2 linked regions of the Homo sapiens genome follow. The protein of the gene in region 2 interacts with the protein of the main gene of each other region in a pairwise test. Each region holds a gene or a part of one and is shown on either strand. Other genes may lie near its edges.

Evidence for each region.
Region 1: the proteins of LAMTOR3 (region 2) and TFE3 interact in binary tests that used the Homo sapiens proteins (3 or more experiments, as listed by UniProt).

Annotation. Positions count from the first base shown.
Region 1 is NC_000023.11:49,040,356-49,047,568, reverse strand, and holds the start of TFE3 (transcription factor E3), read left to right. Parts: upstream 1-4,211; 5' UTR 4,212-4,342; coding exon 4,343-4,458; intron 4,459-7,000; coding exon 7,001-7,114; intron 7,115-7,213. UniProt on the Homo sapiens protein: Transcription factor that acts as a master regulator of lysosomal biogenesis and immune response.
Region 2 is NC_000004.12:99,891,417-99,898,624, reverse strand, and holds the start of LAMTOR3 (ragulator complex protein LAMTOR3), read left to right. Parts: upstream 1-4,197; 5' UTR 4,198-4,290; intron 4,291-4,624; 5' UTR 4,625-4,661; coding exon 4,662-4,670; intron 4,671-6,590; coding exon 6,591-6,625; intron 6,626-7,208. UniProt on the Homo sapiens protein: As part of the Ragulator complex it is involved in amino acid sensing and activation of mTORC1, a signaling complex promoting cell growth in response to growth factors, energy levels, and amino acids.

The DNA.
Region 1 (7,213 bases), on a different chromosome or scaffold from region 2:
AAACTGTCCTGTTGTAGAACCCAAACTCACCCCCAAGCCACCTTCAATCACCACTCATATCTATCCCTAAATACCCCCAACTTCACCATCCAGCTGCCCTCCCACTTCGCTCCACATGTCCCCTTCACAGCACCTTGAAGTTGTCTTGCAGTGAAACCCCAGATAAGGTTGCAGTGAGCCGAGATCGCACCACTGCACTCCAGCCTGGATGACAGAGCGAAACCCTGTCTCCAAAAAAAAAGAAAGAAAGAAAGAAAGGAACTCCAACTATATGGCAGGGGTGCAAGTATTGAGAAAGTTGAGAATGAGATATTGATAGAAACTAGGGCCGGGCATGTGGCTCATGCCTTTAATCCCAGCGCTATGGGAGGCCGAGGCGGGCGGATCACTTGAGGTCAGGAGTTTGAAACCAGCCTGGCCAACATGGGGAAACCCTGTCTCTACTAAAAATACAAAAAAAATTAGCTGGCCGCGGTGGCGGGCACCTGTAATCCCAGTTACTTGGGAGGCTGAGGCAGGAGAATCGCCTGAACCCAGGAGGCAGAGGCTGCAGTGAGCCGAGATAGTGCCACTGCACCTCAGCCTGGGTGACAGAGCGAGATTCCATCTCAAAAAAAAAAAAAAAAGAGAGAGAGAAAAAGAAAAAAGAAGTCCGGGTGCAGTGGCTCACGCCTGTAATCCCAGCACTTTGGGAGGCCGAGGCAGGCGGATCACGAGGTCAGGAGATCGAGACCATCCTGGCTAACATGGTGAAACCCCGTCTCTACTAAACATACAAAAAAATTAGCCGGGCATAGTAGCGGGTGCCTGTAGTCCCAGCTACTGGGGAGGCTGAGGCAGGAGAATGGCGTGAACCCGGGAGGCGGAGCTTGCAGTGAGCCGAGATCGTGCCACTGCACTCCAGCCTGGGCAAGAGCGAGACTCTGTCTCAAAAAAAAAAGAAAAAGAAAAGAGAGAGAGAAACCCAGAAAGATGCAGGGTAGGCATATCATGCAGGGTGTCATGGGATATCACTTGTCATGGAGACATTTGAGATGCGTGTGTGAAGCTGGTGTTTGTAGGATTGGGATGTGTGACAAGATAATTACTCTGTGGCTCTACTGCTATAAATATTTGTTGCCAGTCTGTTGTAAGTCTTTTAACTTTGTAGCATCTTTCATCAGACAGTATGTAGTTTTATTTATTGATTAATTGATACAGAGTCTCATTCTGTCGTCCAGGCTGGAGGGTAGTGGTACAAACACGGCTCACTGCAACTTCAAACTTTCCAGGCTCAAGCGATCCTCCTGCCTCAGCCTCCCAAGTAGTTGGGACCACAGGTGTGCACCACCATACCTGGCTAATTTTTCTTTTCTTTTCTTTTCTTTTTTTTTCTTTTTTTCTGAGACAGAGTCTCACTTTGTCCCCAGGCTGGAGTGCAGTGGTGCAATCTCGGCTCACTGCAACCTCCGCCTCCTGGGTTCAAGAGATTCTCCTGCCTCGGCCTCCCAAGTAGCTGGGACTACAGGCCAGGCGCGTGCCACCATGCCCAGCTAATTTTTGTATTTTTAGTAGAGACGGGGTTTCACCATGTTGGCCAGGATGGCCTCAATCCCTTGACTTTGTGATCCTCCCGCCTCAGCCTCCCAAAGTGCTGGGATTACAGGCGTGAGCCACCATGCCCGGCCTAATTTTTTAAAAGTTTTTTTGTACAGACGGGGTCTCCCTATGTTTCCCAGACTAGTCTCAAACTCCCGGGCTCAAGCAATTCTCCCACCTTGGCCTCCCAAAGTGTTGGGATTACAGGTGGGAACCACCCCGCCAGACCCTCCTCTTTCTTCTTTTGTAAAATTAGCCATTCTTACATGTTTGTTTTTGTTTTTTTTGAGACGGAGTCTAGCTCTGTCTCCCAAGCTGGAGTGCAGTGGCACGATCTTGGCTCACTGCAACCTCCACCTCCCGGGTTCAAGCGATTCTTGTGCCTCAGCCTCCCTAGTAGCTGGGATTACAGGCGCACGCCACCATGCCTGGCTAATTTTTTTGTATTTTTAGTAGAGACAGGGTTTTGCCACGTTGGCCAGGCTGGTCTTGAACTTCTGACCTCAAGTGATCCACCTGCCTCGGCCTCTCAAAGTGCTGGGATTACAGGCGTGAGCCACCGCACTGGGCCATTGTTTTTGTTTTTGAGACAGAGTCTCACTCTGTCGCCCCAGGCTGGAGTGCAGTGGCGTGATCTCGGCTCACTGCAACCTCCGCCTGTCGGGTTCAAGCTATTCTCCTGCCTCAGCCTCCCGAGTAGCTGGGACTACAGGCCAGGCGCAGACCACCACGCCCGGCTAATTTTTGTATTTTTGTAGAGACGAGGTTTTGCCATGTTGGCCAGGCTGGTATCGAACTTCTGGCCTCAAGCGACCCACCAACCTTGGCCTCCCAAACTGCTGGATTACAGGTGTGAGCCACCGTGCCCGGCCCATTCTTACATGTTTAAGGCATCATAGGAATTTTAACATTGGATCTACAAGTTCCGTTTTAGAGTTTTGATTGGTACAATTGGTAATGTATTCTTTTTTCTTTTTTTTTTTTTTTTGAGACTGAGTCTCACTCTGTCACCCAGGCTGCAGTGCAGTGACACTATCTTGGTTCACTGCAACCTCTGCTTCCCGGTTCAAGGGATTCTCCTGCCTCAGCCTCCCGAGTAGTTGGGATTACAGGCGCCCGCCACCACGCCCGGCTAATTTTTTGTATTTTTAGTAGAGACGGGGTTTCACCGTGTTGGCCAGGCTGGTCTCAAACTCCTGACCTCAGGTGATCCACCCGCCTCGGCCTCCCAAAGTGCTGGGATTACAGGCATGAGCCACCGCGCCCGGCCAGAAGTCATCTTTATTATGTAGAGGTTTCCCCCTTGTACGAGATGGTTGTGTGTGAGTATGGATGAGTTTACGAAAGCAACTGACAGACCTGTGAAATAATGATGCCAATACAGGAAGGTCCAAGGTAAATGAAAGCCCGGTGAAATTCCTGGAGGCGCAACTCAGGGTGGGGTCTTGGGATGTCAGGAAAGAGGAAGGGAAGGCTGTAGGTCTGGGTGTTTTGTGAGCTATTTGCACCTGAGGATATATGAGTGAGACCCTCCGCCTTGTGCGAGCCGGCTTGCATGCGTCTGGCATACAGAAGCGCTCAGTGAATGTTGAATAAGTGAACAAATGAGTGAATCAACTAATTTTGGGAAGCTTCTTGTATGCCAAACAACCTGCTAGCACTTTTCATACATTATCTTTAATCCTCAGAACAACCCTGCCAGACAGGTATTTTGACCCCCATTTAACAGGCCAGGAAAGCTGAGGCTGGGAGAGGGGAGGTCCCCTTCCCTATTCAAACCTGGATCTTTGTGATTCCAGAAGTCGTCATTCACCGAAGGGACCAGATTCATTCACCCGTCAAGAATTTATTAAGCACATATTGCGCAGCGCAATGAACATAGTACAACCGCTCTCGATGGCATGGAACAGGCGGAATACTCCCGGAAGACCAGCTGGGCGGCTGGACTGCGGACAGCGAAAGGGGGGGGTTTCTGGCCCGCACCTTCAGGGAATGTAGCTGCCTCTGCCTCATAGTTATGGCTTTGGCTGAGAGAGCACAGCCAGATCGAGGTTGGAGCGCGGTCTAGGGCTCAGATATTACAAATATTGGCCGAAAGAGGGCGCGGTTCCGCAGCTAAAAGCTTGGCCAGGAGACCCTCCGTGCGCCGACTGGCCATCGATGCGCAGGCGCAGAGGACCCAAGGAGCGGCTTAATATTACCTTGCAGAGGGATAATTTGAGAAGAGAGGGCGTGGCTCCGAAAGCGACGCAAACATAGAGGCGTGGTTCAACCAAATCAACCCTCGCCTATTTGTCGCTGCCCCTGAGGGCGTGGTCTGGGTGCTGCTTCTCGGAATGAGGGCGGGCCGAATCGCGTTTTTCCTCCGCGTCGGAGGCGTCGCTTAGGGTGGGCCCTCGAATCGCCGTTCAGCGATTGGCCGCCTCGCTAATGGGTCGTGGCCAGACGGGCCATCCATCCCCAGTGCGGTCACTTCCTGTGGAGTTTCCCCATCCCTGGGAGGAGGGAGGAGGGGGAAGAAGACGAGGGGGAGGAGGGCGGTCGTCCGGGGTTAGGTTGAGGGGGGGCGTCGGTCCGTTCTGGGCGGGGGATGACTCACAGCCCATCCCATCTCCCCGACGCCGCCCGCCCGCGCAGTGCTAGCTCCATGGCTTAGCGGAGGAGGCGGCGGTGGCGAGCTGGGGGGAGGGGGGACTCTTATTTTGTTAGGGGGACCGGGCCGAGGCCCGACCGGCCTGGCAGGGCTCGCCCGGGGCCGGGCGTCATGTCTCATGCGGCCGAACCAGCTCGGGATGGCGTAGAGGCCAGCGCGGAGGGCCCTCGAGCCGTGTTCGTGCTGTTGGAGGAGCGCAGGCCGGCCGACTCGGCTCAGCTGCTCAGGTGCGGGGCCGCCTGGGGCTGGGAGTGCCGACTGGGGCTCCCAGGGGCCTGATCTCGGGGGCAGTGGGGGCCCCGGACTGGGATTGGAGGCCCTCGGCCTAGCCTTGGAGGACGTCGGGGCGCCCGTCTTGGGGGGGCACCTAAGGAATCCGGCAGTGGCCTGCTTGGATTGTGGCTTTATTAAAGGAGTCGTGGGAGTGCATTAAGCGGGGTCTGGGTCAGGTTTGGGGAGCCCTTGACTGCGTCTAGAGGGGCCTATTCTGGAGTATCCAGAAACTGGTCTGAGATAGCTGAACTTGGTAGACAGGGTCTCTGATTAGAGGCTGAATTCGGGGATTTTCAGTCGGACATGAGGGGAATGAATTTGAGGGGACACTGTCAGGTGAGGCACTGGTTTTAAGGGAATCCTAGAATCTTTTTTCCCTCAGTGTGGGAGAAGGGGTCCTGAGGGACAGAAGTGCTGTCTTGGGAGCTTGGTGCCTCTCAGTGACTGGTTGCTGTGTTTGGGGATAACATGAATCTGGAGGGATTTGGAGGTATCTCAGATATGCTGCCTGGGACCAGCCTTGTGAGTGCGTGTGAATGAACAAGAGAAGCAACATTCAGCAAGACTTGACCAGAATAATCCTTTCCCCTCTGCCCGCCTACCCAGCTGGGGCAGATCCCAAGGATAGTGGAAAAGCCCTCTTCCCACACCTGTTAAGGGCCTGAATGGAAGATAGACAGCCAGGCAGAGGGCGATGATGTTACCTCTTAGCTCAGAGGCCTCAGACCTTGTTTGGGAACCCAGAGGAGGCTCTTGTTCATGCTGCTACTCGCTCTAGCCTCTCAGCCCTTCCCACTCCCTAGCCCCACACCCCTTTTCTTTTTATCTTCTTTTCGATCTCCGAGCTCCTGGGGGTAATCTTGAATCTGTCCATAGAGCTGGAACGAGTACAGATTGCACCATCCCTGCCTGGGTGGATCCCCTCTGGCCTCTTCTCATCCTTACTTTCATCAATGGGCTTTGGAGCCCCAGCCCTCCCTGCTCACCCCAGTGCCCATCTCTTCCAACTTCTGTGCAATGGGTGTGTGAGCCCTGGGTGGGGGGGGGTCTTTGCCTCCTTTGTGCCTGGGATTGTGCTGAGCTCAGTGGCTCGCCCGAGCTTCCTCTTCCCAACTTCCTGGGTGGTTTTAGGGCTCCATCTGAGGGTGAGGAGAGGAAGGAAGACAGATCCTTGGGGAGGGGAGAGGATTCTTGTCAAGTGAAGTCACCAGCAATCTCTCAGCATTCTAAATGTTTAGCTAAATTGAAGGATGCATATTCATCCACGTGTGTGTTAACTGTCCCTTGCTCTCTGGGGCTGAGCAGAGCCTTTCTGTATATCGATTCACCATCTTCTAATTCCTCTGTAACAACCTAGATCATCGCAGTAGTGGACATAGTTAAAGGGATGGGTGTATATGGCTTCTTATTTTGTGCGCCAGTGGGTGTTAGTGTTGGGGGTGTGTGTGTGTTTTGATCTATCCAAAAAAACAGGAGAAGGCTGGGCAGGCTCCTCCGGTAAGAAAAGAATGCTTGTATAAAGTGGATCAACCACCCAAATTCTCCCTCTTGTAAATCCAGTCTGTTGGAGCGAGGGGAGCCTTTGATATTTCTATTTTATATTTAGGCATGTGTTGGCATCCCATGAACTCTGGCTGGGGCTGGGAGAAACTCATTTGTGAAATGGTAGATCTTTACGTCAAGTGAATTATTTCCAGTTCTCTTTGTGATGCATTCAGTTTGTGTTACAAGGGACTGTTATGCTGAGGGATGCCCCTACTTGCTCTGTGTGTGTGTGTGTGTACACACATATACCTGGGCTCACATTCAGCTGTAAAGAAAATAGCAGGGGGTTGGCCGGGCGCAGTGGCTCACACCTGTAATCCCAGCACTTTGGGAGGCCGAGGCAAGCGGATCTTGAGGTCAGGAGATCGAGACCATCCTGGCTAATACGGTGAAACCCCGTCTCTACTAAAAATACAAAAATTAGCCGGACGTGGTGGCGTGTGCCTGTAATCCCAGCTACTCGGGAGGCTGAGGCGTGAGAATCACTTGAACCCAGGAGGCAGAGCTTGCAGTGAGCTGAGATCGCACCACTGTACTCCAGCCTGGTGACAGAGCGATACTCTGTCTCAAAAAAAAAAAAAAAGTAGGGGGTATGGGGGCTGGGAGAACTCTGAATAGGAAGTCAGGAATCCTTCTATAAAGTGAATTGTTATTCCTAAATTCTGTTTTCCTCAAACCCAGGTTGTTACAGTGTGGGGGTTGGGATGCAGGCGTTCTTATTATTCTGACTCCTAAGGGACTATGAGTAACACAGTGGGGAAGGGAAAGGGGGATGGGGGAAGGAGGTGGGAATTCATGGTGGTGTGGTACCCAGCAAGGTGGCCAAATATGAGGGGCTTGTACCCTCCTCTTCGTTCTCCCCCCCTCTCTCTCTCTTTCTCTGTCTCAGGGGAGGGCTGGGGAATAAGGTCCTTCATTCAATCACTGACCACCACTCCACCTCCCCCTCAGCCTGAACTCTTTGCTTCCGGAATCCGGGATTGTTGCTGACATAGAATTAGAAAACGTCCTTGATCCTGACAGCTTCTACGAGCTCAAAAGCCAACCCTTACCCCTTCGCTCAAGGTATGTATGACTTGTCTATCTGATTCCCCTCCCAATTCCTCAGCCCTCCTCTCCCCTCTTGATGGGCAGAGGCCCTCAGTACCAGCCCAACCCATTCTT
Region 2 (7,208 bases):
AATGCTTTACATTTTTACCCCTTTTTGTGTAAACACAAATACACCCATGCATATACACACAAACATTATTGTCCTTGTGAGGGTTTGGGGGAAATGAAAAATAGTACCTTTCTCCTCTTCTTTTGATTCCTTAGTTCCCAAATAGACTGGTGCTAGTCATTTAGTCATCTGTAAATTTCGAAATGTAGTTTGATTAAATGTGAACTGAATTCTCAGCAATGAAAAATGTCAAGTTGAATTCATCTAATAAGTGAAAATAATATATTTTGTAAACAGATTACATTTGAACACCTAAATAAGTATTTGTTTCATAATCATTACATGCTTGTTTATGATTTACAAAGATTTGGTAGAGAAAAGTACAGTCCTTAAGGCATATATATGCCAATGCATTAAACTACTCAGCTTTTGTGCCAGCTCAGGTGTTCATAGGAACAGGAATGTGGAATACCAGCTTTTTACTTTAATTATACTTTTATGCTGAATTTTTCTTCCAGTTAAACCTTTAATTACACTAGTATGTAAAGTAGTTACTGAGAAAAATAAGTTTTTGATTTCCCTTCTGTTGATCTGTAACATTTTTAAATGAAGCTATTTAACACATGACATGCTAATGTTACTTAATGGATTCCTATGTATTTCATTAAAAAAAAGTCTCCCACCTGTGTTAAGACAGCTAAATATTTCTTGATGTTGGCTTGAGGACCAAGTGAGCCATCTTGCCAGTTAAGCAAGTTTTATATCAGAGGACCAAATGGTTAAGAAGAGAATTTGTACATTTCTTGAGCTTCCCCATGTGAAGCTTGGGTTCAGTACTATCCTATTACTATCCATCTTCATAATGAGTGAAGCAAACTGAAAGGGAATTCATAATCTTTTTTCTTATCTGAACAGAAAAACTAATGAAAATCAACAATAAATCTTTATTTTAATTTTCATTCAACAGCTGAAAAACCATGTCTGTTGACCACATTGGACCATTGCCTAGTTAAAATCCATAAAATTCCCTATAAACCAATGAAAAGAAACTTGTCTGGCAATAATTTCCAACATTTTAAATTCTAATTTTTAGTTACAAAGAAAAAGGATAGAATGAGGCTTTTCAAGGAATTCTTGCTCATCCCTTCAATTATTTGGCAGGTAAAACAGTCCTAGAATTCAGCTTCCTTTTTGGTTTTATTACTATTAAATAGATACTTTCATATAAATGGAAACACTTTTCCTCAAAACATTAATTCAAAACATACTCCTTATATTAAGGATTATAGCACCATATTTTTTGTATATTCCCTATGTGTAACTTTTTCCTGTTGGTATGTGATATTTTTCATTTAATATGACTATCTGCTGGTGTTGGGGCCAATAGATTTGTGAATATTCTGTGGATGTGTCTATGTATAGGTGTATATATATATATATATATTTTTTTTTTTTTTTCCCAGCTAATTACCTCAAATGTGTGATTGTTTAATATATACCACACTATGTTTGCACAGAGCAGGGCTTCCATTAGCAGTGGATATTTTTATGTCTGACTTTGAAAATCAGTCAACACAATTTCATTGGTGTGAATTATTTGTTGCTCTTTTTCATATTTTAATGGAGAGATTCCTATTATAAGGCCCATGCTTCAAACATAATTATATCTTTCTATATCCAGCCATCTGGAAATACATAGGGGTAAGAAGTATTTCTTGAAATGTCCTTGTTTAGTAAGTTAGTAAAAACTGGGATGACTAGTTGCCAAGATGTCTTGTAACTGCATAGCAGATGACACCTGGCATGGCAAGTCTCATTCACTTCAGCACAACACTCTGTACATTTCAGTCTGATATTCTACTTTGCCATTTAAGGACACCATTAAAATCATAGAGATTTTCAGTGACATTGGAGTATTGTAATTATTACTTTCAAAAAATTATTTTTAATAGGATGATTAAACCAATGAGAAGAAACACACATAAATGATATTTTGCAGTTTATCTGTATTAAGAAATGCTTCTTGCCAATTTCTAGTTTTAGTTTTTGGATTGCTACATAAGACTTTCTTTCCATTTACTTTATGTGTTTTTAAAAGCTGCAGGTAATTTTTAAGGTTTGATGGAATTATAATGGAAGCCTTGTATAAGTTAAATGAAATTGGTAAAGGAGAGCTTACTTTGTCTATAATGCATTCAGGATTAAAAATTAGATTTCAAAATGAAATGTCTGATTTGTAAAATATTTAATGTTATATCAGACTTACATAAAATTTTCTGTGAGAACTCAAATGCATTTGATTTTTAATGAATGTTCTGAATGAAATATGAATTTTTGTCTTTCAGTCTCTGTAGTTTATCTCAATATATTAATAAAAAGGTCTGTTCTCACTGTAAAATGTTTGTTTTTATCATGTTTTATACTCAATATGGCCACTCTTTCATTCATTCAACTATTCAACAAGTATGTCAATGCTTGCTATATCCCAGGCAGTGAGCTGGGTGCTGGGAATTAATCACTGAATAAGAAAGACAAAAACCTTAAAGAGTTTACATCTAGCAAAGAAAATAAATATCAAGTAAATAATTATAATTATGATAAATTCTACAAAGAAAATTACAGGGTACAATGAAAGCATTTATCTAGAAGACCTAAACTATTCAGTGAGGGTCAGGGAAGGCTTCTCTGAGAGTGAGTTTAAGCCAAAATGCAAAAGATGAGATTAGTAGGATTAAGGTATGCTAGAGAAATATCTCAGGCAGAACGTGCTAAGTTGGTAAAGTGATAAAAATCTTTATGGAAGTGAAAACAAACTTGTATGATCATAGCATAAGGAATCCAGGGTAGGTGAGAGAATTAAGATAGGGGCCAGATCCCCATAAGAATGATATATAAACCATGATGCTGATATTGAACTTTATCCTAAGTCAATAAACTTGATTTTCAAGGAAGGAGTTAAATGATGTGATTTGGGTCTTTAGAACATCATTTTTGTTGCTGTGTGGAGACTGGAGGGCAAAAGAGAATGTAAGAAGAATAGGAGGTTGTTGTCAAAAGAGAGATGATCATGGCTTGGAGTAGGGTAGGAATATAGATAGGTGAATAGTTTTCAAAGATAGGAGGTAGAATCAACAGAACTCTGATTAGATTTGTGACATATGGAAGCAGCAATTGAAAACCAGGCTAAAGTTTTCTGAAAATTTGGCTATGAAAGGGAGTAGAGGAAAAACAGTGTGGTAGCTGAAAGAGGATGCGATTTCTAAAGAAGCTTTTCTTTTGAGGGTCTCGCTCTGTCACACAAGCTGGAGTTCAGTGGGGCGATCACCACTCGATGCAGCCTCAAACCCTGGGCTCAAGGGATCCTCCTGCCTCAGCCTCCCGAGTACCTGGTGCACGCCACGTTCGGATAATTCTTAATTATTATTATTATTTGTAGAGATGGGGTCCTATCTTGCCAGGCTGCTGTGGAACTCCTGGGCTCAAAGGATCGTCCCGCCTCGGACTCCCAAAGTGCTGCGACTACAGGCGTCAGCCACCGCACCCGGAAAGCCTTTTATTTTTTTCAATTATTATTTATTACATGAGACCTTACTAATTTTTAAAAATTCTGATGTAAAAGGGAACATAGAAGGTGCCCGTAATCAGTGTCTGCATGTTAAAAGTAGACGCTTGAAGTGCTCCAGAAAACCCATGGCTCCTCCCCATTCAATCTAGGTAAGGCCTTCAGTAAAGAGCACCCATGGGGAAGTCACAAGAGCCTAGGAAACAGGTCAGAAACCTGTGGACCTGGTACTTCCAATCACAGGCAATCTGGTGCTTGCTCTTCAGCTCATCACACCATCCCCTCAAATTTCTTCATCTACAAGAAAAGGTTTTAAGATAACAGACCCTGCAAAACTAATGACATTTATACACCCTCTCTGCACAAGAATGTCTTGTAACACATAACCTTGCTTGCATTTTCTGGGTTCCTTAGGGTCCAGCGATCTCGTACAAATCTACCCCACAGCTGACTTCCTTCGGCCCGTGACACAAGGCGCAGGCGCAAGACGCGGCCCGCGGTGGGCGGGGGAGGGGCGGGGCGCGTGCGGGGCGGGGGGGAGGGGAGGGGCGCGGCCGCCGGACGCGCCCTCGCAGCTTCCGCCGGGCCCCTCCGGAAATCCCGTATCGTAGGGCGACGGCGGCTTAGAAAGTGCTTCCTGGAGCGCAGACGAGGTCATGAATCATGTGACGGTGGCTTGAGGAGGAACCTGTCTTTAAAGCTGTCCCTGAAGTGACAGCGGAGAGAACCAGGCAGCCCAGAAACCCCAGGTAACTGGCGCTACTTTGCCTGGTTTTGAGGCCTAGTCCCGCAGGTGGCGCGGGTGGTGAGATTAAACAGAAGGAGAGGACCCTCTCTTCTTTTCTTTGGGCCTAGCTCTTTGGGGTGGAGGGGCAGGGATGGGGTGGGCTGAGGTAAGGTGTGCCAGCTGAGTACCTGTGGGGGTGCTGGGGCACTCCGACTCCCACTGGGCTCGCTGGGCCAAGCCCTAGAACCGCGGGGGTTTTACCTGGTTCTGACCAGGGCTGATCTCGCGTATTAAGTTGTGGGTGGGGAGGACGAGGAAGCCAAAGAGGGAAGAGTCACCGGGAGTTTCTCTTCCAGGCGTGGAGATTGATCCTGCGAGAGAAGGGGGTTCATCATGGCGGATGTGAGTGACACCCCTACATAAGAGGAAGGGGAGAGTGGGGAATTTTGAGGGGCATACTGAGCGGGGAGAGGTAGAACTTCCCAAACAGAAATTTGTTTTGATCCTCCCAGCCCCACCCATCCCAGTTAATTATTTTCTCTGATATCTGAAGTGGGAGACTAATATGAATGAATTTGCAGGATCCTGAGTTTCTGCCTCGAATGGGGGTGTAGGACACTAAGGTGCTTGAGACTGAGAAAATTAGGTTCTCCCTACTCCCCAGTCCAGCTGGGGCATAAGAGAGGCTCTGTATATTTACCATTTGAAATTCTGAATGATGGTTTGCTGCTTTTCCTGTCAGAATTTGGTCAGTAGGACATGTACCCACAATACTTTTTTCCAGTAAGTGATAACAATATCTCATTTGGTTTATTGTAGCAATTTACGATGATTTCTAACCCATGCCTCTTTAGAAACATGGTAACGTGTGTGTGTGTGTGTGTAGGAGGATAAAATGATCAGTCGGGTTTGGAGAATAGTAAGTGCTGGATGCTCAAAACAAGAGATACCTGATTAATCCATGTGAGGTCAAAATTGATACCTAAATTGTCAGTGAAATTCCTGGGATAAGAGAGTGTAATGAGACAAAATAAGATAGTCTTCTGGCCAATGCGGTTGCTTAGTCTGTAATCTCAGCACTTTGGGAGGCCGAGATGGAAGGATCACTTGAGGCCGGGAGTTCAAGATCAGCCTGGGCAACATAGCAAGACCCCGTTCTACAAAAAGAAATTTAAAAATCAGCCAGGCGCATTGATACCTCTGTAGTCACAGCTATGCTGGAAGTGAGGCGAGACGATTGCTTGAGCCCAGAAGTTGGAAGTTGCAGTGAGCCCCAGCTTAGAAAAATAAAATAGTCTTCTACTTCTTTAGTCTTAACTGTGTTTCGTGTTAAACACTTGACACACATTGTCATTTATTTTATATTCTGTAACACTGGGCTGGGCGCGGTGGCTCACGTCTGTAATCCCAGCACTTTGGGAGGCCAAGGCGGGTGGATCACCTGAGGTCAGGAGTTCGAGACCAGCCTGGCCAACATGGTAAAACGTTGTCTTTTCTAAAAATACAAAAAATTAGCTGGGCATGGTGGCAGGTGCTTGTAATCCCAGCTACTCGGGAGGTTGAGGCAGGAGAATCGTTTGAACCTGGGAGGCAGAGGTCGCAGTGAGCCGAGATCGCGCCATTGCACTCCAGCCTGGACAACAAGAGCGAAACTCCGTCTCAAAAAAAAAAAAAAATGTTGCCTCACATAGTCATATAGAATTTATTTTAGGTCCTTAAACAAAATATTTTAAAAATTACGTTATAATAATATGCCTTACACTGTTTCATTATTTGTTGAGTAGGTGAGTTCAACAAATAATGAAACAATGGAAGGCATATTTTTATAATGTGATAGTCACGTGAGACAACAGTCTTACAGAGGTCATATCACCTTACCCAAGACCATTAAGATGATGGTGGAAAGTCTATCTTTGAACATGGAAAGGTGTTTATAACGTCTTCTCAAGTGAACACAATAGCAACAGGATGTAAAACACTAGTATGAAAATTATGATGTAATTTTATGGCTAAAATGTGTTTCCCATTTCTAGGTATGCTAATCCATGCATCTTCTCAATAAACTTTTAACAACACTTTTATGATGTAGGTTCTATATTAGCCCTATTCAACAAATAATGAAATAAGCTTAGCGAAAAAAGGTTGGTTAACTTACTCCAAGTTGCGTGACTAGTAAACATCCAAATCAGACAGAGAAAGATAAAACACAGCAAGAAAGGTTATGAATGATAACTGAAGTTCCTTAAAATTTGGATAGGACAGGATCTAGAAAACAGTGGAAGGCCTATTATTACAACATTATTTTTTAATGCTCTCTTTCAGGACCTAAAGCGATTCTTGTATAAAAAGTTACCAAGGTAAGAAATTTTTAATTTGTTATTGAATAAATTCTATATGCCATATGTTAATTTTATGAAGCATTTTGTCTGTATTTTCCATGTTGTGAAGTATCTCTGAGATTTCCTTTAATATGAATATTTTTTGCCAGCCTCACGTCCTCTGGAAAATTTTCGTCACAACCGCTTTCCTCATTTATGTCAATAAGTTTGCCTTCACTGAGTTCTCTGTGTATCTAGAGCGATAGTGTCAGCATTCCCTTGGTCATCTGTTTCTTCTATAATTCTTTACTTTCTATTTGAAATTCAGCATTTCTATTTGAAATTTCAGCATTATTACTTTTCATTTCTTTGCTGTATTTCGTCTTTGTTGGCCAGTTTCCTCTTTTTATTATCTCTTTTTCTAAATGTCACATACTTTATCATTGGGAGACAAGGAGGTACAAAACTACATGCTTTGCTATCTCTGCATGAGCTGCATAACAGATGCACAGTGACCAACCATCAACATACTTTGAAAGAAATGATGTGGCTGGTTACTGATGACAGTGTGCATCTGTTAATTACATAATTATTTATGTAGTGATTTGTGGACTAAAGAGTT